Homo sapiens: one gene and its partners. The protein of the gene in region 4 purifies or fractionates together with the protein of the main gene of each other region. This does not show direct contact. Each region holds a gene or a part of one and is shown on either strand. Other genes may lie near its edges.

Region 1 (3,500 bases), on a different chromosome or scaffold from region 4:
AGCCTCGACCTCCCAGGCTCAAGGGATCCTCCCACTTCAGCCTCTGGAGTAGCAAAGACTACAGGCACATGCCACCATGCCTGGCTTTTTTTGTTGTTTTTTGTTGTTGTTGTTGTTGTTTTGTTTTTTTTGTTTTTTTTTTAGAGACAGGGTCTCACTATGTTGTCCAGGCTGGTCTCAAACTCCTGGGCTCAAGCAATCTTCCCACCTTGGCCTCCCAAAGTGCTGGGATTATAGGCGTGAGCTGCAGTGCCCGGCCATCACTTGTCTTTTTAACTGGGTTATGATGTCTTACACTTTCCAGAAGATTTTTTAAAATATATACTTAGATTTTTAAAATATATTCTTAAGTTATTTTTGTGTATGATGAGAGATGGAGACTTATTACTTTCTAAATACACAGCCACCTGTCTTTACTCAATTTCCATTTTCAACATTACACTTAGAACACTTAAAAGAACTAAAGTGTCAACTGCTTCGTTATAAAAAAGGAAGTTGTACAAACAAAATAATAAACCAACAGTCTAAGCTCAGTTTGATAGGCTCTTACTACTATGTACTTAAAGATCACATAGCAGTTTCAGGAGCAAAAACACTACCATGCCTGGCTCTCTTATTACCGCTACAGCTCACAACAGGGTCTCCAAAAGACATCATAGACTGCATAGAAGTCTATCTGCAGCTTACTGATTGCCACACATGTAAATTCACATTCACATTTAAATAACCCACACTTAACAACAAAATCAACCGTCTCAACTCTCTATGCATTCCTTATTGCTGCTCCTAGACCACAGTGCTTTGGAGACTTAGTAAAGAAAATGAATGCACTCTCCTGAATCACAATATCACCTGGAAATGTAACCAGAAGGTATAAAAAGTCAGGGTAGTTTGTTAAATTGTGTGTGTGTGTGTGTGTGTGTGTGTGTGTGTGTGTGTGTGTGTGTGTGTGTAATCAACAATTTATAAGGTTACCTTATCTCTGGGGTCAGCACTTTTTCTGTAAAGGTCCAGAGAGAAAATTGGCTTCACGGGACATAAGGGCTCTGTTTCAGCTCTGATGTTGTATTGTGAATGCGGCCAGAAAACACATAAATTAATGGATGTGGCTATATTCCAAGAGAAGTTTATTTACAAAAACCGGTGGTGGGCAGGATTTGGCCACAGGCAGTATTTTGCCAGCCCCTGCCTTATACCAATGTTTTATCTTTTTCAAATAACAATCTACTTCCCTCACTGCACACATATTTGAGTAAATATAGTAACACTGAAGGGACAAATAATTTCAGTACTGCCTTACAGAAATGAATATTCTCAAAATTAATCACTAACCTTTTCCTATAATTCCTTCTCATATGAGCACATACATTTTTCAAAATATAAAACTGTAAACATCACCTTGAACCTAATATTTATTTCAAAAGACAGTTACAATGAGTGTCATGTAGCTGCTATAAAAGGAAAAATGCAGTCTAGACAGTCAAATACAATGATCTTTTATTCATTATTCTCATAATCAACAGTGAGTAGAAAAGTCTGCTAAATACATGGTCATGAATCATAACTTCACTACTCAAAATGCAGAAGTAGACTTTCAAAGTACATTTAAATAAGAACACAAATTTGTTTTTTGGATTACTTACCAAAATCCTTGATGGAAAATGATACAGTTTTGCCAAAATATTTTTAATTTAGAAAGTGAAACCAAAAACCTCTTTAGCATATCATGCGTCTATTTAATTTTAAAATACAAATTTTAATGTTGCATTTGACAGCCTGGTGAGGTAGACATTATATTTTTAAGGCAGCCATTTTAATATAGTGAGAGCATGTGTGAATATGTATTAACATTCTAAGCCATTAAGGCCACTTGTTCACAGAATATATTTGAGCTCTAAAATTGTTGAAAGAGAAAATGCTCAAATAGCTTACAGAAATAATGGATGTTATACAGAACAGAAAGGAATCAAATTAAATAACAAAAGTTTGTAAGATTTCTTGACACCAAAAGCACAGTCCATAGAGGAAAAATTAATAAACTGGACCTCATCCAAATTAAAGCCTTTTGCTCTGTGAAATTCCCTGTGAAGAGGTTGGAAAGACAAGCTACAGACTGGGAGAACATATTTTCATACCACTACCTGACAAATGATTAGTATTAAGAATAAAAAGGCCAGGGGCGGTGGCTCACGCCTGTAATCCCAGCACTTTGGGAGGCCGAGGCGGGTGGATCATGAGGTCAGGAGATCGAGACCACCCTGGCTAACACGGTGAAACCCTGTCTCTACTAAAAATACAAAAAAAAAAAAAAATTAGCCAGGTGTGGTGGCGGGTGCCTGTAGTCCCAGATACTTGGGAGGCTGAGGCAGGAGAATGGCGTGAATCTGGGAGGCAGAGCTTGCAGTGAGATTGCACCACTGCACTCCAGCCTGGGCAACAGAGCGAGACTCCGTCTCAAAAAAATAATAAAAAACTCTTAAAACTCACCAGGTTAAAAAAAAAATCCAAATAGAAAATGGACAAAAGACATGAACTGATATTTCACTGAAGATACAGAGAATGGCAAATAAACACATGGAAAAATGATCAACATCATTGGCGATCAGAAAAATGCAAATTAAAACTAGGAGGATATATTACTACACACCTATGAGAATGGCTAAAATAAAAAATAGTAACAGCACCAAATGCTGTCAAGGATGAGGAGCATTCACACATTCCTGGTGGGAATGTAAAATGGTACAGCCACTCTGGAAAATGGTTTGGCAGTTCCTTAGAAAACTAAACATGCAAGTGCTATACCACCCAAGAAGTACACTCTCAGGCATTTCAGAAATTTATGTTCACACAAAATCCTGTGGACAACTGTTCATATGAGCTTTATTCAAAATAGGCAATAAATAAATAAATAAATAAGTAAAACAAACAAAAACCCTGGAAACATCAGATGCCCTTCAAGAGGTGACTGGTTAAACAAACTGCAGTAAATCCATATTATGGAATACTACTCAGCAATGGAAAGGAACAAGCCATTGATAAAAGGTATATTCCTTGCACTAATCTCCAAGGAATTATGCTGAGTGAAGTAAAGTCAGTCTCCAAAGGTTATATACTGTGTGATTCATTTATATAAGCATTTTTGAAATGACAAAATTATAGACATGAAAAACAGATCAGTGGTTGCCAGGAGTCAGGGATGAAGGGAGATGGCTACATCTATAAAAAGACAACAAAAAGGATCCTTGTGGTGATGCAATTGTTCTGTATCTTGACTGTGGTAGTGCTTATATAAATCTACACGTGATAACATTATGTAGAACTAAATACATACATGCAAATGACTGCATTAAAGGTGACGAAATCTGAGTAAGGTTGATGGATTGCATCGATTTCAATTTTGTAGTTGTGATGTTACACTATACTTATGCATGAGGCTATTATTGGGGGAAATTAGATAAAGCGTATTATTTCTTACAACTATATGTGAATCTACAACTATC
Region 2 (3,500 bases), on a different chromosome or scaffold from region 4:
TGCTATGTACGTAATTCTCCTCAAAATATCCTCATATGTGTTCAATAATTTGTATGTTAAAAGCTTTTCATTTTAATGTTTGTTTTCACTCGTAGAAAAAAAATACTTGATACCATATGTGATGACTTTAAATAATGTTCTTGTAAATTCCTTGGAGACTATGAGATCTGAATTTATATTTATTTCCTTCATGTTTTCCAGTATTCCCTTTACTATCTAGATAGCACATTCTTGCTCAGAAAACTTTTGCTTAATAAATGAATGAGTGAATGAATGAGGTGCTGTTTATTGGTACATTAATTCTTACACCTATTTCTGACTTCAAATAAAAATAATTTTCAGACATAATTCATGGGAGATAATATACCTGACTGTTAATTAAAGAAATATATATTGGTTCTTGAAGAAAGAGTTTGTGTTTAGGACGAAAATTTGCAAAGGAAGTATTAAAGACAAAGATCGAAAGCCATGCACATTGAACGAGGCTTTAAAACACATGTATTCTTGGAGGTTATACTGATAGATAGACTATACAAGGAAATGGAAGATATGTATTTATTATTACCAAAAATATTCTTAATTATTTTAGTGTATTACAGATGATACATTAGTAACCAAACAAAAATGCATGACCTCACACAAACATTAAGCAATAACCTGTGCATTTTGATTTTCTTGTTGTTTATTTGGTTTCTTTTATTCCAGGTTGTTTCAGTGTGCCTTCCCTTGAACCTTGACACAAAGTATGAATTACTTTACTTGGCGGAGCAGTTTGCAGGGGTTGTTTTATATTTAAAATTTCGTTTGCCAGAAATCAGCAGGTGAGGAACCAATACCAATGATAATTTCTAGAGGTTAAGCAGATAAGGGCAGAAGAAAAGTGGCCGAAAAGGTTTGAAGTGTGTGAAATTGTATTACCTATCAGATAATGTAGTCATATTACCAATCAGATGACTTGGGGAAACCTAAAGTTAATTTACTCCTTCACACATGTAATTTTCATCCTAAAACCTTTTTGAGTCATTCTAGGCTGACTTTCCCCAATGAACATTTTACATTATTCCATATTATTCCTTTTGTAGAAAATGCATATTTACTAAGAAGCTGGGAAAGTAGATTTAATGTACTTGTGAAATTTCCATTATTCTTTACACATGTTATGAAAACCAGGTAATAAAAAATACTCAGTATTGCTTTTAGAATATCATTATATTCAAAATTATTAAGGAAAAAATTTAAACTTGCTTAAGTGGCATTTTAAAGACATATATTACATAATTTTAGTTGGCTGTCTAAATACTTTATCCATTATTATCGTACTTAGATTGAGTTCAGAAATGAAGTAAATGCTTATGTTTTTTAGTCATGATTCCACTTATTTTTATAGCAATGTTTATGATCCAATTTTTATTTTATTATATTTATTTATTTTTGAGACAGAGTCTTGCTTTGTTCCCCAGGCTGGAGTGCAGTGGCGCAATCTCGGCTCACTGCAACCTTCGCCTCCCAGGTCAAGCAATTCTCCTGCTTCAGCCTTCTGAGTAGCTAGGACTACAGGTGTGAGCTGCCACACCCAGCTAATTTTTGTATTTTTAGTAGAGACAGAGTTTTACCACGTTGCCCAGGGTTGTCTCAAACTCCTGACCTCAGGTGATCACCTCAGGTGATCTGCCATAATTGTACTTCAGTTATCAGATTTTCTCAGAAGCATACATTGCTGGAAGTAGAAGAAAGAAATTGGATTTTTTTTGGAATAATGAGAAGGCAAAATACTTGAGACAGATTATACAGTTCAAATTTTAAAATATTTTAATTAAATAAGCATGTATGTTTAGAACTTGATGTTAGATACATGAATGATTATTCATTAAATAATTCAACTAAATTCATAGACGTTATTAAAAACATTGAAAATTATTCTAAGATCAATAACTTACATAAATACTTAAGTAACAGTGCTCCTTCCACACTTTATTTCTGCCAATATGTGGTTTTTTCCTTTAACATCACAGAGCAACTAATATCTTCTAATGATAGAGATTGGAGAAAACTCTTCCCTGCTATGAGAATAATAATGAGAGAAAAATATTAGTTCTAGTAAATAACACTTTTAGGAATACAATTGATCCTCCAAATCCTTGAGTTCCTCATCTGTGGATTTAACCAACCTCGGGTAGATAATATTCAGAAAAAAACACAATGACAATACAATACAAAATAATACAAATGAGACACAATACAGTATGACAACTATTTACATACATTTGCATTGTATTGAGTATTATACATAATGTAGAGACGACTTAAAGTACGTGAGAGGATGTGCATAGGTTATATGCAAATACTATGCCATTCTATATAAGGGACTTGAGCATCTGTGGATATTGATACCATCCAGAGGTCCTGGAGCCAATCTCCAGGAGTTTGTTCATTTCTCACTGACGATTCATAGTAGTTTGATCTCTAACATGGGATCAGAATTGGACAAATTATTTTTTCCAGAATTTATTATTTATTTATTTTAAACTTTTCATTGAAATATAAAGTATGTACCGATATGTACACATTAGATTAAATGTATAGCTTGATGAATTTTTATAAACTGCCCCTTGTGTGATCAACACAAAGAATAGCTAGTGCTTTTATTTATTTTTGCAAATTTCTTGACGTCTGTTGCTCATGATCAAATACTTTCCCTCCGTAAATGTCAACAAATTCATTCTATTTTCCTGTTTACCATGCTTGTGAAAAAGAATGAATTGTTCCCCATTGTAATGAATCAATATGCTGCTGATATATTCCAGAAACAAAATATGCAGAACATGACCCTTTGAAACTATGATTTCAGCCTGATTTTACAAAGAAAAGGAAATTATCTCCATAATAGAATCAACTGCTGGAAGATCCTGAGCATACACAGATTTGGATTTTGGCAAGATAATATTGCTTCACATCAGCAAAATGCTCAGATAATTATGAAAGAGCATAGAAGTCCTTATTCCAAGCAAAATTGTTCTTTTTTTCATAATCTGAGTTCAGTAAATTCCTACTACATTGTTATCCATCCAACATACTTTACTCCACATTTTACCTCTTTTTAAATATTTCTTTGGAATTCTAAAGATGAAAACATTCATTTTGTCACCTTTTCTTTGTTCCATTTGAGGGAGATACGTGCCCCATTGCAAATGGTGCCTCTATTACTATTACTATTTTACTATATTGCGGTAAGAGTGTGGGATTCTGTCCTGCCTAATATAGCAATTATCTGAAGTCCAGACTCTTTAACTTAAATTGCCTTTATTTTAAGTTAGGTGACTAATAGTTATACACCTATTGTTCCTTTTCCCTGTTTGTCTTTCGTCAATCATGTGGATTTGCTAGTCCCTTGGAAACTTCAATGCTGATTCTCATTGAAGTGTTTTAAGGATACTGAATCAACACATGTTATTTTAAGTCCTGCATCCTAAGACTTTTCTCCCCTGTAATAGCTACATATA
Region 3 (4,095 bases), on a different chromosome or scaffold from region 4:
CACCCCTGGCTGCAAGTGCCTCAAGGACAGCCTGGAAGAGCCTGTGGGGGAGGGAGGGTGGCATTCAGCACAGGATACACACAGGAGCCCCAGGCTGTCCTCTGCCCACCGTCCCCACCCCAGCTCTAGCTCTGCCAGGGAGGCCCAGGCAGGGAGGTGAGCCCCTCCGGAGCAGCCTAATTGCCACTGTCACAGCTCAAGTGTGTCGCCGTGGGAATGGGCTATTTCTAAGCACGGCAGGTACCGTCTTCCCCTTCCCCCGCCAACACAGCTGGCCCAGGACAAGAAGGTGCAGAGACAAACAGGGGGCACCCTGCCTGTCCTGCTAGGAACTGCAAGGCAGCGTGCCGCACACGCTGCCTGGGCCAATGCCACCCAGGCCAGGAGAGGGTTTGGGGCCAGACACCAGCCCATACCCAAGGGTCCCAGGGGATGTGGGGAGAAGGGGAATCCACCTTTTCCTTCCCTCCCACCTCCCAAATAACACACAGACAGCTCTGTTGGTCTGAGAATGATGGACATTTAGACACTGGCGCCAGGTTTGCGCCTGACCGGCGCCACGCAGGGGTGGGCGGAGCAAAGACACACAGGTGGGCTACAGGTGTCACACGGCACCAGCCAGGGCCCGGGGTGGCTGGGGTGAGGATGGGTGTTTGGCCAGTGACCAGGAGTCAGGTCAAGTCCAGGTGGTCAGTGCCAGGGGCTCCAGGAGGGGAGGGCAGTGCCATAACCCTCCTGGTGTCCAGCGTCACCAGGCGGTCGTCACAGAAAGCAACCTCGGCCCGGGGCCCGGGTCTGCAGCAGGTGGGCAGGGTCAGCTTTTCTTCCATGGCGGGTGGCATTGTCTGGGCCGGATACTGGCTCTCGACCCCTGGGCATGCAAAGGCTAGGGGTGGTGCTGTCAGTCACACCGTTGCCACCAAGGTCCCCTGGGTCGGCTGAGGCTTGGGATCCAGGCAGCGGTGGAAGGTCGGGCTGCTCAAGGCCGGTATCTAAGCTTCTGCCCTGGGACCCAGTGGTGATGGCCGCCATCTGCCCCATTCCCACAGGGACCTAGTCAGAGGTCGCACACACAAAAGGGGTACCTGGCCCTGGAGAACCACCAGCTGCCCGGGGTCTGAGAACACTCACCCTGGCCGCTGGGCCAGGCCTGCCAGGCTCCCGGCTGGTCCAACACCCTAAACGGTACAGAGCGCTGCAGGCCCTCACCTCATGCTTCTGCAGCGCTTGAGGGTGAAGGTGTCTCCAAGGGGACGCTGGCCAGATGCATGGAGAGGCCGGCCAATCTTAGGGCCACAGACCCCCCCTGGACAGCAGAGGGTGTTGGCTCCTGCAGTGGGCCCGAGATACTAAGGCACGAAGCTAACCTAAGCCCAGTGGGGTGGGGCGGGGCAGGACAGGCTTGGAGAGCTGCGCCCCAGGCCTGCAAAGCACAGTGACCGAGCAATGGCGACGGTCTGTCTGGGACAATTCGGCACAGGATGGAGGTGCGGGGTGAGCCGGAGTGCCCATGGCTCTTGCTGGAAGGGGCTCCATGCCCTGGCCGCCTCTATAAAGGCCTGCGGAGAGCGGGGAGAGCCCTGGATGCGGCTGGCACAGCAGCGCAAGCCCAGGGGCCAATCCGGGGCCAGAGTCTGGGAGTCTGACGCCCGGCTGGAAAGGGCGTGTGATGATGCCAAAGTGCCGGAGCCGTCGCCGGCAGGTCCTCCTCCGCGGGGATCTTAAGGAGGCAGCAGGAATGAGGAGAGGAGAGCGGGCGGAGGACCTGGGAGCTCAGGCGCCCTCAGGCAGGTGGCGCAAAGATGGGCGGGCGGCCTCGCGCTTCAGGGGTGTCTGCGCAGGCCGGGGCGCGCGAGGGCCGGGCGCATGAGGTTCTCGGTGATGTAGGCCACCAGCAGGCAGATGACCACCAGCATGACGCAGATGGAGCCGCCCACCGCCGTCATGGCCACCACGATGTCCTGCATGCCGGCCGGCTCGGCGGTGAACTCCACGCACTCGGCCGGCTCGGGGGTCTCTGGCGCGGCGGCGGCGGGCCCAGCGCGCAGCGGCAGCGGCTGCAGGCACAGGCGGTAGAGGACGCTGTCGTGCACGTCGGGCAGCAGGTAGTCGCGGCAGGAGGCCCCGAGGAGCACGCGCTCGCACGGGAAGCGCGTGTAGGCGCCGCGCCACGAGCAGTTGAGCGCGAAGGCGCGCACGCGGCGCGCGGCGGCCGGGGCCAGGCGCCACTGCAGGAGGACGCTGCGGTTGCGCAGGACGCTGGCGCGCAGGGAGCGGCCGGCCGGGGCGTGCAGCACGCAGCCCGGAGCCTGGCAGCGGAAGCCGCGCGCGGGGCTGCGGAAGCACAGGCGCCCGCCGCCCGCCTCGGGGCCCTCGGGCAGCACCTTGTAGGGGCACCAGGGCGCGTCGGGGGTCGGCTCCCAGCCCGGCGGCGTCGGGGCGGCCGCGGCGCAGGGCGGCGGCGCGCAGGCGGCCAGCAGCAGCAGCAGCGGCGGGGCGCGCATCCTGCGGCGGGGCCACGGGGCGCGGCGCTGGGTCACGCGGGCCGCGCCGCCGCCGTCCCCGCTGCCCGCTCCCCGCGATCCCCGGCGCGCCGCGCCCTCCGCCGCCGCCCGCTCCGACCCGCCCCCGCGCCCCGTGCGCGCTCGGACCCGGCGCGGCGGCGGAGGCGGGGCCGCCCCTCGCCCCGCCCCCCTTAACCCTCGCCGGGCCGCGGCCTACGGGTGCGGGGGATCGGGGGTGGGGGGGAGGAGGGGGACGCAGCGAGGCGGCCGGAGTGCCGGTGGGGCTGGGGTGCGGGCAGGGGCGCGGGGTGCGGGCAGGGCCGCCGCTCTCCCGGCTTCCCGCCTAGTGAGCGCACCTTGGACCCCTGCGGCTTTTCCGAGCCGAAACTCACGGGCTGTGGCCGGCTTCGTTTCGCGTCGTGCAGCTCCGCGACCGCCCGTGGCCACACCAGTCGGGGACTTCGTGCTTTACGATGGGGGCGCAGCGGTCTGGCACGCGCAGGACCCCGGGCCTTGCACCCCAACGCTGGCCGCCCTGGACCCGCGGCGGGGACCCGCGCAGTCAGGGTACCTGCCCATACCGATGGGGTGGGGACCAGCACGGAGACTTTCCTTCACCCCGCGGCTTCTGTTCCTTTCAGGACGGACAGCGCCCACCCGGAGGAAAGCCTGACAGATGAGACTTCGCAAGGTGAGAACTCCCTTCGCTCCACACGCAGCGGAGGCAGCTGCAGGGCGCCGACCTTCCCTGCCTCATTGCGCCCCCTCCTCCTCCAGATGCGCTCTGGGGGGCCCTCCCGATGGCTGTGGGGAGGTCAGGGCTGGACAAAGGGAATCCAAAAAGCCCACCCGGTGCACTGAGTAGGTGGCACCGACGGGGGAGGGGAAGGCGGGACACACCCCAAGACCCCTGCCCCTCATTCCCGTCCCTGCATAGATCACCCAGCAACCAGGACACCCCTCCAGGGCCAGGACTACAGCCAGGGACTGTGTATGCAGACGTGGCCGGGCCTGGCCGGCCTGCCCTAACTGGAAAGGAGGCCAAGCCTCGCACCTAAGGCTGGGCTGGCACCTCCGCTGAGCCAGCTCTGGGTCTGCAGGGGTTGTGGGGGGCTCTCTGGCAACTGGACCATGAGTTCCTGCAACCCCTTCCTGTGCTCTCCTTGCCTGGGGGCAGAGTGAGGAGAGACTGGCTATTCTGCTCACGGTGTCCTTGGTCCCCGACCTCTGGATGGCCATGTCTCCGCCCCCCCACGGAGTCACCACCCAGCCTCACGAATTCCTGGTCATCTTGAAAAACCCAGTGCAGTGGTCAGGACCCCACAGGATCTCAGGGGCTCTGCCAGAGCCCCGGCCCAGCGGTCAGGCCCCCACCAACTGTGGTCACGGTGCACCTCCGTCCCCGGCATGGAGGGCCCTGACCCCCTACACCAGCCTGTTGGGCCCCTGGCAGGGTCTGCTGAGGCCTCTGCACCTGGCGCAGAGAGGTTGGGGGCAGAGACCTTGGGAGAGGCGCTCCCTGCCCCCTGCCCCCAGCTCCCACCTCTGCTTAGGAAGGGCAAACCCTGGGCTCTGACTCTTGCCCCAGCGT
Region 4 (3,500 bases):
AGGGTACACAGTCCCCAGAGAAGGTTGCATTGAGCAGGCCTGTTGTTCCTTCATTCTGTCACTCATTCATTCAATCAAGATCAAATGCCTGCTCTATGGCTAGATGAGAGGTATTTCAGTGTCTTAATAATAATACCAATAGTACTATAAAAATGAAGAAGTGGGAGAAGAGCAGAGATGACAGCAGAGAGGAAGAGAAGAGGGGGAAGAGGGAGAGGATCAAGAAGATAACAGAGCATCTGACTTCATGCCAGCACCCCTGGGACGGACTCTAGGGGACTCTCGGGAGTGGTAGCCATTGCAGTGGGATTGCCACCTGTGGAGCCTTTCCTACCACTGGACGCTGATACAGATTTCCCAAGGCCACTGAGCAACCCTCAAAAAGCTGCCTCCTTCACCCGGGAGTGAGGTTCAGCCTTGTGTTTCTGGAAAGTGCACATGCTGAGGCCCTGAGTTTTCCTGGATTTCTGTCCGACTCTTGGCATGGCCCACCTTTATCTGGGGGAACCTATCTAAAGAGGCTTTGTCTGAGGAAAGCTCCACATGTAACCTGGGCCGCCTGGTAATAACAGAACAACCTGAACAGTACAAGCGGTGGGAAGCGCTGGCTCCACGCAGCCCCATGCGATATGCGTGTGGGAAACCCCAGGCTCTGTGCAGCCCTATGCATCATGCCTGTGGGAAACCCCGGGCTCTGTGCAGCCCTATGCATCATGCGTGTGGGAAACCCCGGGCTCTGCTCATCCCTATGCATCATGCATGTGGGAAACCCCGGGCTCTGCTCATCCCTATGCATCATGCATGTGGGAAGCCCCAGGCTCCCCTCATCCCTATGCATCATGCGTGTGGGAAACCCCGGGACCAGCTCATCCCTATGCGTCATGCGTGTGGGAAACCCCGGGACCAGCTCATCCCTATGCGTCATGCGTGTCGGAAACCCCGGGACCAGCTCATCCCTATGCGTCATGCGTGTGGGAAACCCCGGGACCAGCTCATCCCTATGCGTCATGAGTGTGGGAAGCGCCGGGCTCCGCGCAGCCCCATGCGTTATGCATGTGGACACCATGGCCTTTGGAAGACGGCCTGTAGGCGCCCCCCACTCCAAGAGACTGGTCCCTCGAGAGGACAGAAAGCGCAGCCAGAGGGGTGGCCGGCGCCCCTTCCCCGTAGGCAGGAGGAAGGGCCTCACCAGTAGTAGAGCAGGAAGAGGAAGGTGGGCAGGGAGACTGCCAGCTGCAGCCAGCGCCAGTGAGGCAGGGCGTAGGCCAGCCCGGTAAGCGCCACCAGCCCCACCGTGAAGGCCATCTGGTACATGATCGCCACCGTTCTTCTGGAGCCCGAGCCAACAAATTCTGTGACTGAAACAGGAGGTGTGGACGTTATGCGGGTTCCTTGCAGGAGCCCAGGAGCCCGACGCCGTGCGTTCAGAAGCTCGGGGCCCCAGTCCAGCTTGTCTCCCCGCGGGAAGCTCCCACCCGGCCTTGCCCAGCCTCACCTGCTCCCAGGCTTCTCTCTTGTGTGTCTCCCATTTCTCCTTCCCGCAAACCACAGCCGCGCTCACGCCTCCCCTTCTCTCTGGGGCCCCGGACCCATCAAACCGGGGCCCCGGACCCATCAAACCAAGGCCCCGGAGATCCACCAGGCTGCTTGGCTCTCTGGCTTTTCCCTGACCGTCGCTTTCCGCGTCTGCTCCTTTACCATCTGCACTCCCCTCTGCCTGCTTCAGGACTCAGTCCACTGGCCTCTCCTCCCCAACGCCTTCCTCGAGAAGCTCCAGACTCAGCTGGAATATTTGTCAGGACCCCAGGGGTGTTCATTCATTTAGCAAATATCTTTGAGTGCCTCCTGGGGACCTGGTACTGTGCGGGGTGTCTGAGGCACATCGTTAAGCATAGGAGGTAGAGTCCTGCCCTGGGAGACCTCATTTGGCAGACGCTCCACATCACAGATAAGAGAATGCAATCCTATGTTAGAGCGTGATACGTGTAACGGGAACAAAAATGAAAAGGGGAAAAGGAAGTCAGGGGAGTCGTGGGTGGAGGGGCTGCGGGTGGTGTTGGAGCGTGGATGTGGCCCCGGGTCAGACCCCCCAAACCATGTGTGGGACGGTGCCTAGCAGCAGAGGCTGTCACAGGCTCCACACGCATGGGGCTGAGCCAGCTCAGCTTCACCAGGCTGCTCATGGCTTCTCAAGGCGGGAACGTGGATCCTCTTGGCCCTAGTGAATGAGTTCTCAGAATGCCAAGTGATAGCACCTTGTTTTCAAAGATGAAAAGACAGGCTATTTCTTTTTTCTCCCCCACAAATGAGTAAAAGTGTGGCTCATCCTCACTGCTGGCTGCCGTGCCCTGGCCTGGGGAAGTACAGATGACTCTTAGGCTGCATTCCTCCCGGAAAGGGTTTTTTGTTTTGTATTCTTAACCTTAGAATATTTGAAAGGGAAAAAAAGGCTGATATGTAAAACTCCTCATGTTGGTTTATACTTCAACTTTTTCAAAATCCTGATTTTCACAATCCTTATTTTATTTGCTCCTGTTTTCTTTCCTAATTCTTGAGTGCCATTCAAGCCCGTCAAGTTTGCTGTATTTATTTTAAGGAGTTGCTGGTTCTTTCTTATGTAAAATGCTAGAATATTCTCTCACTTATCTCCTCTTCTGCACCCCATCCTGACTGCTGTGAGCACATCAGCATGGGGTCTTTTTGTTCCCCAAATAGATTAGTTGATTAATAGGTCAGTAATCTAAGTGATAATTTAAGTGTCTCAGACACAAAAAGAGAGGAGGCCATTCTAGCCCATGTCCTGCCCTAGTCACATAAATACAAGGAACTGGTGCCCCGCAAGCTCCTTGACCCCACAAACAACCCCCTACCCACGTTAGGCCCATCCCATTCTACCCTGAGACCTGGCCTCATCCCCATGATAATTACTTAGGGTGTAGCCAGCCATCCAGTTGCCCTTGCTGACCAGGCCCTGCAGCAGGCGGAAGAGCAGCATGGACATGTAGTTGGGCGAGAAGGCCATGAGCACGCCCGACACCGCGTTGACCAGCACAGTTCCCAGGAGACACAGCTTACGGCCAAACCTTCAGAGAGAAGGAGACATGGAGGGCAGGTGGGAGAGGTTGAAATCTGGGGTCAGACATGCATGGTGGGATGCCAAGGGTCACAGTCGGAGGCCACCGCACCACTGTCCTGGGAGACTGCAGGGTCTATCAGGACAGCAGTGCCCAGTGCACCGCCCAGCCTGCTCATCTGTCCCAACAAGCTCCGCAGCCCTTCCGGGTCTGAAGAGGAGTCTGAGCGCTCCCAGCAGCATCACAGCTCAGCCGGGCAGTGCCCGCAGACCCTCTCCAGTTCACGCCTGTCCCCTTGCCTTATCTTCATATTTAGCAGATGGCATCATTATTATCGCCACTGGTCAGGCTGCACCCAAACCAGGCTTCCTTCCTCCCATAGTCTTATCAACCATCATGGAAGCTTTTCAGTGCCATATTCAGCTC
Region 5 (3,500 bases), on a different chromosome or scaffold from region 4:
AACTCAAGCAAAACAGAGGAGGGGTAGCTGAGCACACTGCCCGCACAAAGGGCTTTCTTCTTCTGCCCAGGCCTCCAGAGGCCTCATCCAGCACCAACAGCTCCTCCACAGCCTGGGGCCTCCTCCCCCCTCACCTTGACCCCATACCAGGTTCCTCCAGGGATGCCATCCACTTACAGATACTTCATCCATGGGAACCTGTTACCTTGCCACCTGAACCCCAGTGATGAACCCTCCTGGGGTAACCCCCAAATGCAGAAACATTCATCGAGCCTTCTCTCCATTGCCCCGCCCCAGGGCCATCCCCAGGCATACCTGGATCCAGGGGTTATCGTCATTGCTGCTGGGTGTCCAGGCATTGACCATGCCTGCGCGGTTCAGGCGGGCCAGCTCCGGGACCCAATGCTGCAAACCCAAGAAGGTCACACGCACAGACGAGGCGGCGATCTGTGAGTTGGCAATGTTCCCATTCTCCAGGCCCAGTGGCTCGACACATTCTGAGGGAAGGGAGGTGGCAGTCAGGTGGCTACCCCAGCAGGTTCCCGGGCCCAGCTGGGACCCAGCGGACAAGAAAATAAGACTGTATGACCTCTGCCTAAGCCCCAGGGCCAGGGAGAACCTCAGAGCCTCTCTCAGAACAAAGACCACAAAGGGACAATGAAGGCAGTGCCCAGGACGAGGTGCCAAGAAAAGGTATGTGGCCAGGGGTGGTGAGGATGAGGGGGGTGGGCAGAGTCACGGGAGGCTGGGACCCAGGGCTGCCAGAGGATCCCAGCCAGGGTAGCACTGTGGGGACAGCCATGATTGGCACTCATGGAAAGTAGAGTCCCCCCCGCCAGGCTGTGGGAGGTGGCCTCGTTCATATAGGGCATCTGGCAGCAATCAGTCTGGTGCAGGGGTTAGACTGGTGGCACAGAATACCGGTGTGACCCCCTCTTCCTCAGTGTCCCCTCCCCCCACCAGGAAGGGACGCCATCCTCAGCCCAGCCCCTGGCTTCCTCAGGAGGGTGGCTTTGGGAGAAGGGCTACCTCGGATAGCAGTGAACAGTACCAGCACTGTACACAAAGAAAGAAGCTAATCTGCCTGGAGTTTTCTAGAATCCCACTGGCAGGAGTTCTCTGGGTGGGGCACAAATGCCATTCTGCTTTCCCTCTTTACGCCTTCCACCTGTGGGCCCTCACCCAGCCATCTGTGAACATGCCCGTGGCCAAGGCCCCACCCCCCTCACCATCACTCCAGCAGTGTGGTCCCAGGAACCCAGGACAGCTACCAGGCCCACCTACAGGCCAAGCTTCTCTCATCACCTGGGGATCCCCCCAGCGTGTGCCTGGGCCTTCCAGCTGCCAAGCAGAGAACCCACAGACAGATCTAGTCTTCCTCCAACATCACAGGCGCGGACGAGCTCAGTGTTAGCGCACTCTGGCAGGGAGGGGAACGCGCAAAGTGAGGCCAGAGCCTCAAGACCAGAGCTCGGCCAGTGGCTGAGCTGAGATTTGACCCCAGTCTGCCTCCAAGACTATCCCCATACCCCACCACGCTCACACCCTGAAGGAGTCCAGTGTGCATTCTTTGGGCCCGCAGGGTCCTTGTTGGCTCCAAGGAAACATACCACGTAAAAGGCAAGGAAGAGCTGCGAAGGTCCCTCTGAGGGCTTCCTCCGCTGTGTGGTCACCCCTGCCTTCTTCCTGGGTGCAGCCATATCCAGCCTGGGGAAGATCCCAGGCCCAGAAGCTAGAAGTCAAGGTGGGTAATTCCCACTCAGGCACACTCACTGTTACCTCAGCTCCCAGGATACTTGTTAGTGGCTCCACCTGGCCCTACCCAGGGCTCTGATTGCCTTAGCAACCCGTCCGCCAAACCATACACACACCCTTCCACCAGGATCTCAAACACATCTGGCCTCAGGGCAGGGTCCAAGGCACAGGCCCCAGGGCCACTTGGGAGGTAAAAGGCATCCTACTCACTTGACCTGCTCTCTCCCAGGGCCCCTGCTGCCACCCAGCTGGCTCAAGCCCCCCGCCCCCTCCTTCTGGAGGCCAGCAAACCTCAGAACCCATCCCCACATCTCCCTGAGGAGGGCAAGATGTCCCCTGTCCCCTACCCAAGATGCTCAGCGATTGACCTGCTGGATTCAGAAACCTAGGACCCCCCGCTCCACCCATCCCTGGGCCCACATGTGGGCAACCCGCCTGCCCCATGAGGAGTCCTAGTGGGGTGGGAGCACTAAGTGGGAGGGACTCCAGCTGGGCCTGGAGGGAGGACAGCAGGGGAACTGCTGTTGCCACCCCACCTAGGGCCATTCTGTGGCCGAGTGGATAACCAGGCAGGTCACACGCGGACAGCCCCTCTGGGCATGCAAGGCCTCTGACCACCTGACCGCGTGGGGATGGTTCAGCTGGCCCAGGCCTCTCCCTTCTCCCCGAGCTCTGCGATGAGGCTGCAGGTCAAACTTGGGCCAGGAACTGTCAGACTCTGAAACCAAGGCTGATTTACTGAGTTCCTGGGCCTCAAAAGACCAAGAATGTGTTTGTTTTCCCCTCTTAGGTAGAAAAATCCTTGCAACTTAACCCTAATGCTGTGTGTCTGGCTCATGGTGACTCAAGAAACAGCACTCCCGTGACCTCCAGGGTGACCACAACCCCTCACTCCTCTGCATCAGCATCAGGCCTGGCCGGCAGTCTCAGGAAAGAGGGCCAGGCAGAAAGAAGGAAGAAACAACAGGACCCTTTTCCCCCCTCGGTCTAACTGAGGCTCTGTCTCTCTCTCTGAGTCTCCCCAGAGGAGGCCTTGACACCTCCACTGGGGTGGGGATCACAGGCAGAGAATAAGGCCAGCATATGGCCTATGCCACCAGGGCTGTGGCTCAGGGTCTACTGCTAGAAACAGGCAACAAGCACCCCCACATACTCACTCGTCTCACAGTGGTTGCCCGCGTAGCCCTTAAGGCACGTGCAGGTGTACGAGGGGAAGACATCTCCTCGCACTTCTTGGGAAATCTCCTCGCATAAACCACCGTTGTGGCAGGGGTTTTTGGAACAGATATCTGGGGACAGAGACAGGTAAGATGAGCAGATGATCAGGAAGGAGCTGGGGACACAGGTGAGAAGTAGCAGATGGGTCCAGCCCAAAAGGACCCTCCACTCAAACTCGCCCATTATCTCTTCCTCTCCCTCTTCCCCCGTGTGCTGGATGGAGCCTGAGTCCGCCTAGAGCCAAGGAAGTCCATGTGTAGGCGAATCGGCCCACATAAGGGAAGCGCCCAGCTTTCCAAGTGGCCTGGGAGTGTCCAGAAAAGTGCTGGCTGACAATGGCAGTGGTGCTGGGGACCACTGCCCACTGGTGGAAGAGCTGGCAGCTGGGGTCTGGAGAGGCAGGCAAGGTCCAGGGCAGGTCTCTTGGCAGCAGTTTGATTGCAAAGGAGGCCCATGAGGACTTTCAGGCAGGGGCAGTGGAAGGAAGCATTGTTCTGGCCCATTGAGCAGGTTCCGCCCACCAATTC
Region 6 (4,268 bases), on a different chromosome or scaffold from region 4:
TAATTTTCAGTCAAGACCACTCCTAATAGAGTTTGTGGGGCAAAATTTCACCAAACAACAAAGGGAAAGTGGGGAGAGTGAGAACAGAGAGGTGGATGGCCATGAGAGTAACCTATTTGCAAGTTTTCTTTTGGGATGAAATCCAACTAGCTAGATAGATAAGAAGAGTATATACTGATAGTGCTATGCCAGGCCTACCTAGATAGTTAGATATAATTGCCTTAATTCACCTGCAAAATAACTGTAGTCTGTGACATTGCTCAAGGTGGAGTTCACAGGGCCAGAGTCCAAATGACTAGACTGAAAAAAAGATTTAAGCGGCGGGAGGGGAGGGGGAGAATCAGTGGCTCATGTTCTTGTTTCCCATTTGTTCCAGTCCAATAAAATCTAACTATGTCACTGAAATGAAAAACAAACAACCCTTGTTTGTAATAGGAAAGAATTTAACTTACTCAAAACCAGAAAAGGGGGGAAGGGAAGGGGGAATAATGCAACACACATTTAGAAATATAGAATTTATTTATATTCATAAGACAGTTTCACATTCTGTACATGGTTACCAGAACAGATACAATACTCTCAGTAGTTTACAACGGCATTATATTGCTGTCAAACATTGCTTATGCTGTGTGAGTTGGGGAAAACTTATTTCCCCCTCTAAAAAAAATTAAGGCTCAGTTTCCAAAAGATAATTATATCAGTCATTTTTCTGTTTAAGAGACTGGGAAAATTCGGGAATAAAAAGCACAAAGGGGTGGAGGGTGAGGGGTAGCTCCACACACTCTCATTCATTCATACTGAAGTTACTCAATGTGATTTTTTTTTTTTAAGGCTCCTTCTATCTGAAAATGTGTTTGGTTACAAAAACAAACAAATCAGTAGATGGGAGGGGTACTAGGTACAGATCTACAGCATTCAAACAAGGAAAACTAAGCTCTTTGTTACCAGTTGCTGGTTAAAATGTGGTCTACGAGCTGCCTACATATAAATGCGCACACACATTAACTTTGACTCACTTTTCTTTGGCGAAGCTTACTGAATAGTATTTCTCTTCCAACACACTAATGACACTAATTTACATTTCCTTTTGACTTTCAGAGCAGGTGGCCACAAAGTTGTCCCTTTTCCTAAATACAATCCTCCATTTTTCCTTTCAACCTTGCAGTAGACCATAACCATAATGGTCATCTTGCACTGATGTGTAATCTCACCATTTAAGTGACTGAAGAAAGTGGCAAGGCTAATTACAGAAAAAGAGTTTGGGCATTTTTGGAGAATTACCCTATCGATGAGTTCCAAACACACTTTTCAAGCACTTTTTTCTATACAAATATTTCATTCAGTCCACAGTGATGCCATCATTTTACAAAAGCAGAATCTGTTTTAACTCAGTAAACCACCTTACAATCCATGGGGCTAATGTTACAACAACAACAAAAGCCAAAAAGGGCACCTGTAGGTTCTGCCTCTGGCATAAAGAGGTAGAGACAATCATTCTGTAGAAAAGATTAACAATAATAAAAACAAAACAATAAAACAAAACAAAACAAAAAAAGCCATTCCATTTCTAAGGGCTAGTTCTAGATCTAAAGGCTGTCATCCGTCCTCTTAGCTGAGAGATCCATTGCCCACAATCATCTTGCTGTAATTTTTCTGCTGCTCTTCCTTAAAGATGTCCTTCACCTTTGCTCTCTTTAGTCCTCCATCCCTGCAAACAGAAAGACAAATACATAAAAGATACTTTACAGCGGTGATTTAAAAGAGTTAACTTAATAATTACATGCTGCATGATACCATGACGCTTAGGCAGCTGGGATGAAATAAGGGAAAGAACACTGGATTTGGAAACAGGAAGACCCAGGTTTCAGTTTCTGCCCTACCACTTGCCAAATACACATTACTTTGAGGAAGGAACAATCTCTCTGATGTTTGGTTAAAATAAGTAACAATATCCCCAACTCAGTTTCTTTAGAAGTTAAGGGGTGGTGTATTAAATATTTGGATTGGCCAGGCACAGTGGCTCACATCTGTAATCCCAGCACTTTGGGAGGCCAAGGTGGGTGGATCACCTGAGATCAGGAGTTCGAGACCAGCCTGGCCAACATAGTGAAACCCTGTCTCTACTAAAAATACAAAATTAGCTGGGCATGGTGGTGTATGCCTATAATCCCAGCTACTTGGAAGGCTGAGGCAGGAGAATCGCTTGAACCCGGGAGGTGGAGGTTGCAGTGAGCCGAGATCACGCCATTGCACTCCAGCCTGGGCAACAAGAGCAAAACTTCGTCTCAAAAACAAACAAACAAACAAACAAAAACTGGATTGAAACAAGGATTATTAAAACTAGGATTATTTCTCTATATTATTCCTTAAGGAAAACAAAATACTGGTTTTTCGTCTACCTATGTCTTACTAGAAAACCACAGGAAAATTTAAAATATACACAGAAGAAATGGTAAGGGTACTGTATATGTGTGGGTAAATTTCTTAAAGATAAATGATTATTCAAAAAAGATAAATCATTGTTCAAATATAACCCTATCTATGTTTAACAAGTTATATTTTCTTTTTTTTTTTTTTTTTTTTTTGAGACAGAGTTTTGCTCTTGTTGTCCAGGCTGGAGTGCAATGGCACAATCTTGGCTCACCGCAACCTCCACTTCCCGAGTTCAAGTGATTCTCCTGTCTCAGCCTCCTGAGTAGCTGGGATTACAGGCATGCACCAACAGGCCCGGCTAATTTTGTATTTTTAATAGAGACAGGGTTTTTCCATGTTTGCCAGGCTGGTCTCGAACTCCCAACCCCAGGTGATCTGCCTGCCTCAGCCTCCCAAAGTGCTGGGATTACAGGCGTGAGCCACCGTGCCCGGTCTAACAAGTTGTATTTTCATTCAAAGCACTATATTTCCAGCATTTATAATCATTTATATTCCAAAACAGATTCCGAATAAAATAACAAAATCATAAGTTGCATTCAACCAGAAGTGCCTATGTAAGCAGCATTCCTTCATTCAGAGCCTGTAAATCTTTGAACTCTCTCCAGGGTGCCTGCCTGGGTATAAGAACTCTGCATGCTTTTCCTTCTTTGGACTACACATAAAGAAACAACAAACTGGAGTTGCTGGGAGTAGTTTGGACTATCATAGGTCACTATCTGGCTCCTAATCTAAAGTTTTAGATTTTAACTGCTAGGAGAGCATGGGCTGAGAACTTGCTTACTTTATACTCTGACTGTTTAATTTTAACCCAGTTAAGCATGCATGTTTACCAAATGCTTTCTGATGATGGTGAATGATCGTAGGTTAGCCAGTGAACTCAATGCCATGTGGACAGAACTTGACCTCCACAGAGACACCGGCTTGAGACAAATGCAATGTTCTGGCTTCTAGACTCAAATCTAAGACACAGCAATAAGTCCTCAACTTAAAAACAGACTGTGATCCACAAATCATCCAGTGGGTCAGTTGTGGGAGGTTTTCATGAAACAAGATTATAAATTGTTGTTAGGTCCACAGAATTGTCCACATAAGCCTCTTTTATCCAAATGAGCTTCTTCTATTAACAGCACTTACCTGAATTCTGAATAGTGAGAACTAAGGAAACTAAAGAAATAAGAAAGGCCTTTCTCCTTTCACAAGATCCAAGCCCAAAACAGGCAAAAATGTAAGTCTTGAGCAATCTGACATCATTTTGTACAATTCTCCTTCCCAAGCACCCAGTAAACCTCATGCTGCTCTAAGCACTTAAACTGTGATTTGCCACCCCTTAGAGACTTCAAAATTTTATCCAATTCCCCTTTGCAATGGCAGCAGGTCTTAGTTCTTAAGAGAGGGAGCAGCCATATATAAAAGCCAGTTTAAGATCATAAAATTATATTTTCACTCAATCTATGAAAAAACAATCTAGATATGTTAATTCATAACCAATAGGTACATGACAAATAAATCTAGAAAGGCAATGAGGCCACTTTCTTTTTTTTAAGAGGCTAGGTAATTAAAAGTAATTTTATTATACAATTGCATATGGCCTGAAAAAAGGACACTGGACAATTCTGAGGATCATTTTTGATGGATTTAGTTCAGCCACTCTGATGGAGAGTCTGTACTTGGCTGACTCCCCTAGGTTGTTCTTGTCTCTCAAGGCTTTCTTCCCTTCCTGTGTCTGAGACTACAGACACTGACTTCAGGATAGAAGCAGGAGGGCTGAGTGTCAGGTAAGATAAAGAGTGAGTAAAGAGTTTTAAATAAGGAAAAGGAACCCAGTTGCACGTATG
Region 7 (3,500 bases), on a different chromosome or scaffold from region 4:
GATCAGGAGGGCAGGGGACGGGTGGGTCAGGCTGGAGTGGACAGGCTTGGCCCCATGCCTCTTTGATCAGGCTAGGGAGAGGCATCTGACCCCTGGCTATAGGATGGAGCTCCTAAGGTTTGGGAATTTCTGCTTAAATTCTGTAAGAAGCATGCACAGGGGTGATGCCCCTTCCTCTGTGTTGGCATCATAGACTGTGTTCCAGGCTGAGGCCCTACTCATACTCATTGATACTCTCTGTTAGTATCTGGGGAAGGTTCCGGGTATAAGGCAGGATGAGGTCTCTGCTGGTCGGAAACACAGGTTAACAAAGCATTTAACTTGGAAGAGGAGAGGAAGAGATTGTTGATACATTTGGGCACTTACAAGTGCCATTACAGATGTTAAGCACATTCCTTCATTTAATCCTTAATAATTAGACTTAGGAGGTGTCCTTCCTGTGCTTTACAGATGAAGAAATTGAGGGCCAGGGTGGTTCAATATCTTAGCCTGGGTCACACAGCTAAAAAGTGGCAGAGCTGGGGTTTGAACTCAGTTGGACTACAAAGCTCTTGAGTTGTAGGTTGTGTCACTTTATTTATTTAAGCTTCCATTTGCTTATCTGTATAATGGAAAAGCTTGGACCTGATCACATGTTCTTTCCCTGGGAGGTAAGGGTGCCAAACTTTTGCATATATTCACTTTTTCTGTTTAGAGGAGGGCTTGTCAGGGTCATTGGCCTCAAAGCTGTCTGTGGTCCCCAAAAGTTCAAATCACACCCAGTGGGAAAATCCTGTGATTCTATGAATTCTCTGGTGAGAGCTGACATCCGTGCTTACAACGTATCAGGCCCTTGCTCAGCATGTTATGCTATTTTATTTAATTGTCACAATAACCTTATGAGGATTTTCTATTGTCCCCATTTTCACTAAGAAGGAACAGAAGTGGCCAGGCATGGTGGCGCATGCCTGTAATCCCAGCACTTTGGGAGGCTGAGGGGGGTGGATCACGGGGTCAAGAGATTGAGATCATCCTGGCCAACATGTTAAAACCCCATCTTTACTAAAAATACAAAAAATTAGCTGGGCATGGTAGCATGCGCCTGTAGTCCCAGCTACTCAGGAGGCTGTGGCAGGAGAATTGCTTGAACCCAGAAGGCGGAGTTTGCAGTGAACCAAGATTGCACCACTGCACTCCAGCCTGGCGACAGAGCGAGACTCTGTCTCAAAAAAAAAAAAAAAAAAAAAGGAACAGAAGTTTGGAGAGGTTCAGTAACTTGCTCAAGTTCTTACAACCAAGAAATGGCAAAGTTGATATTAGAACTCAGGCTTTCTGGCTCCATGTACCTTTCTGAAATTGGTGCCCTGAGTCACCTTCCAAGGTTGGGTTGAAGTGTGTCGGCAGCAGTTCCCACAAAATCAAATGACAAGAGCAGGGAAAGTGGGCAAGGAGTTGGGGCCCTCAAAGGGCAAAGTCACCATCCACTGTGGTTCTGAAACTCTCATTCCCTGTTCAACCAAGTTACTGGGCTGAAACCTTCATGTACCTAGAGGCGTGTGCCCCTGCAGCTTGTCATCCTATTAAAAAAAATAGAGACAGAGACTTGCTCTGTCATCCAAGCCAGAGTGCAGTGGTGTGATCATAGATTTCTGCAGCCATGAGCTCCTGGGCTCAAGTGATCCTCCCACCTCAGCATCCCAAGTAACTGGGACTACAGGTGTGCATCACCACGCCCAGTTAACTTTTAAAATTTTTTGTAGATGCGAGGTCTCACTATGTTGCCCATGCTGGTTGTGAACTCCTGGCCTCAATGGATCCTCCTGCCTCAGCTTCCCAAACTGCTGGGATTACAGGCATTGAGTCACTGTGCCTGGCCCCATCCCATATTTTAGCCACTCCTCCAAAGATCAATACAACTCCTTTTGTTTCCTTACTTCTTCAAAGCTGTTTTGATTTCATCCACAAAAAAATATGAGGCAGACAGAGTGGGCGGTCTGGCTTTTTTACTGTGGGGTGTTCTCGGAAACTTGTCTTCATGATTTCTTCTCATGTCCTGCTCTCCCTAGACAGATGCTTGCTCTGGCCTGCAGGGCTTCCTGATTTTCCACAGTTTTGGTGGGGGCACTGGCTCCGGCTTCACTTCTCTGCTGATGGAACGCCTCTCCCTGGATTATGGCAAGAAATCCAAGCTGGAGTTTGCCATCTACCCAGCCCCCCAGGTCTCTACTGCAGTGGTGGAGCCCTACAACTCCATCCTGACCACCCACACCACACTGGAACATTCAGATTGTGCTTTCATGGTGGACAACGAAGCCATCTATGACATCTGCCGCAGGAACCTTGACATTGAGCGCCCTACCTATACCAACCTCAACCGCCTCATCAGTCAGATTGTGTCCTCAATCACTGCTTCTCTCCGCTTTGACGGGGCCCTCAATGTGGACCTCACTGAGTTCCAGACCAACCTGGTGCCCTACCCCCGCATCCACTTCCCGCTGGTCACCTACGCGCCCATCATCTCTGCCGAGAAAGCCTATCACGAACAGCTCTCTGTGGCCGAGATAACCAGCTCCTGCTTTGAGCCCAACAGCCAGATGGTGAAGTGCGACCCGAGACATGGCAAGTACATGGCCTGCTGCATGCTCTACCGGGGCGACGTGGTGCCCAAGGATGTGAATGTCGCTATTGCTGCCATCAAGACCAAGAGGACCATCCAGTTTGTAGACTGGTGTCCCACAGGCTTCAAGGTGAGAGCTGATGACTTAGGAAGGGGAGAGAGGACTAGAGAAGCAGAGGGAGGTGACCAAGGATATGCAATTCCATGGGCGCTTCAGGCTTTATGTGATGATAAGGGGAGGGGGACTTCAACCAAATGTAACATGAATGGAATTCAGCTTTGGTTGAGACACAAGTGCTGTCAAAGTTTTGTCTGTTTAGGCCATTTTAGAAAAGTTTGGTGCTATTTTAAATTGATTAATTGGTTAATCACCTTTGGTTTTGTTTACTGAGCAACAAGTAATGATTTGGTATTGGCCCAAATCTACTCACCTGAAGTACAGTGCTTTTGGTGTTCATGATTTGGTTCAATTTGCCTAACGTTAGTTTTGTTTTTTTTTTTTTTTTTGAGACGGAGTCTCACTCTGTCACCCAGGCTGGAGTGCAGTGGCACCATCTGGGCTCACTGCAAGCTCCACCTCTCAGGTTCACGCCATTCTCCTGCCTCAGCCTCCCAAGTAGCTGGGACTACAGGCGCCCGCCGCCACGCCCAGCTAATTTTTTGTATGTTTAGTAGAGATGGGGTTTCACCGTGTTAGCCAGGATGGTCTCGATCTCCTGACCTCGTGATCCGCCCGCCTTGGCCTCCCAAAGTGCTGGGATTACAGGCGTGAGCCACTGTGCCCGGACTTTTTTTTTTTTTTTTTTTTTGTGAAACGGAGTGTCGCTCTGTCACCAAGGCTGGAGTGCAGTGGCGCGATCTAGGCTCACTGCAAGCTCCACCTCCTGGGTTCACGCCATTCTCC

Evidence for each region.
Region 1: the proteins of SLC22A1 (region 4) and ACSL4 purify together in Homo sapiens (affinity purification with mass spectrometry; one large-scale study listed by BioGRID and IntAct). This does not show direct contact.
Region 2: the proteins of SLC22A1 (region 4) and PROS1 purify together in Homo sapiens (affinity purification with mass spectrometry; one large-scale study listed by BioGRID and IntAct). This does not show direct contact.
Region 3: the proteins of SLC22A1 (region 4) and FNDC10 purify together in Homo sapiens (affinity purification with mass spectrometry; one large-scale study listed by BioGRID and IntAct). This does not show direct contact.
Region 5: the proteins of SLC22A1 (region 4) and MFGE8 purify together in Homo sapiens (affinity purification with mass spectrometry; one large-scale study listed by BioGRID and IntAct). This does not show direct contact.
Region 6: the proteins of SLC22A1 (region 4) and GPAT3 purify together in Homo sapiens (affinity purification with mass spectrometry; one large-scale study listed by BioGRID and IntAct). This does not show direct contact.
Region 7: the proteins of SLC22A1 (region 4) and TUBA8 purify together in Homo sapiens (affinity purification with mass spectrometry; one large-scale study listed by BioGRID and IntAct). This does not show direct contact.

The regions. Positions count from the first base shown.
Region 1 is NC_000023.11:109,726,758-109,730,257, forward strand, and holds part of ACSL4 (long-chain-fatty-acid--CoA ligase 4), read right to left. Parts: intron 1-3,500. UniProt on the Homo sapiens protein: Catalyzes the conversion of long-chain fatty acids to their active form acyl-CoA for both synthesis of cellular lipids, and degradation via beta-oxidation. Preferentially activates arachidonate and eicosapentaenoate as substrates.
Region 2 is NC_000003.12:93,893,897-93,897,396, reverse strand, and holds part of PROS1 (vitamin K-dependent protein S isoform 2 preproprotein), read left to right. Parts: intron 1-705; coding exon 706-821; intron 822-3,500. UniProt on the Homo sapiens protein: Anticoagulant plasma protein; it is a cofactor to activated protein C in the degradation of coagulation factors Va and VIIIa. It helps to prevent coagulation and stimulating fibrinolysis.
Region 3 is NC_000001.11:1,597,512-1,601,606, forward strand, and holds FNDC10 (fibronectin type III domain-containing protein 10 precursor), read right to left. Parts: upstream 2,625-4,095; 5' UTR 2,505-2,624; coding exon 1,824-2,504; 3' UTR 501-1,823; downstream 1-500.
Region 4 is NC_000006.12:160,131,815-160,135,314, reverse strand, and holds part of SLC22A1 (solute carrier family 22 member 1), read right to left. Parts: intron 3,084-3,500; coding exon 2,929-3,083; intron 1,359-2,928; coding exon 1,190-1,358; intron 1-1,189. UniProt on the Homo sapiens protein: Electrogenic voltage-dependent transporter that mediates the transport of a variety of organic cations such as endogenous bioactive amines, cationic drugs and xenobiotics. Functions as a pH- and Na(+)-independent, bidirectional transporter.
Region 5 is NC_000015.10:88,906,880-88,910,379, forward strand, and holds part of MFGE8 (lactadherin isoform a preproprotein), read right to left. Parts: intron 3,045-3,500; coding exon 2,913-3,044; intron 498-2,912; coding exon 316-497; intron 1-315.
Region 6 is NC_000004.12:83,602,108-83,606,375, reverse strand, and holds the end of GPAT3 (glycerol-3-phosphate acyltransferase 3), read right to left. Parts: intron 1,709-4,268; coding exon 1,609-1,708; 3' UTR 501-1,608; downstream 1-500. UniProt on the Homo sapiens protein: Converts glycerol-3-phosphate to 1-acyl-sn-glycerol-3-phosphate (lysophosphatidic acid or LPA) by incorporating an acyl moiety at the sn-1 position of the glycerol backbone.
Region 7 is NC_000022.11:18,124,309-18,127,808, forward strand, and holds part of TUBA8 (tubulin alpha-8 chain), read left to right. Parts: intron 1-2,045; coding exon 2,046-2,726; intron 2,727-3,500.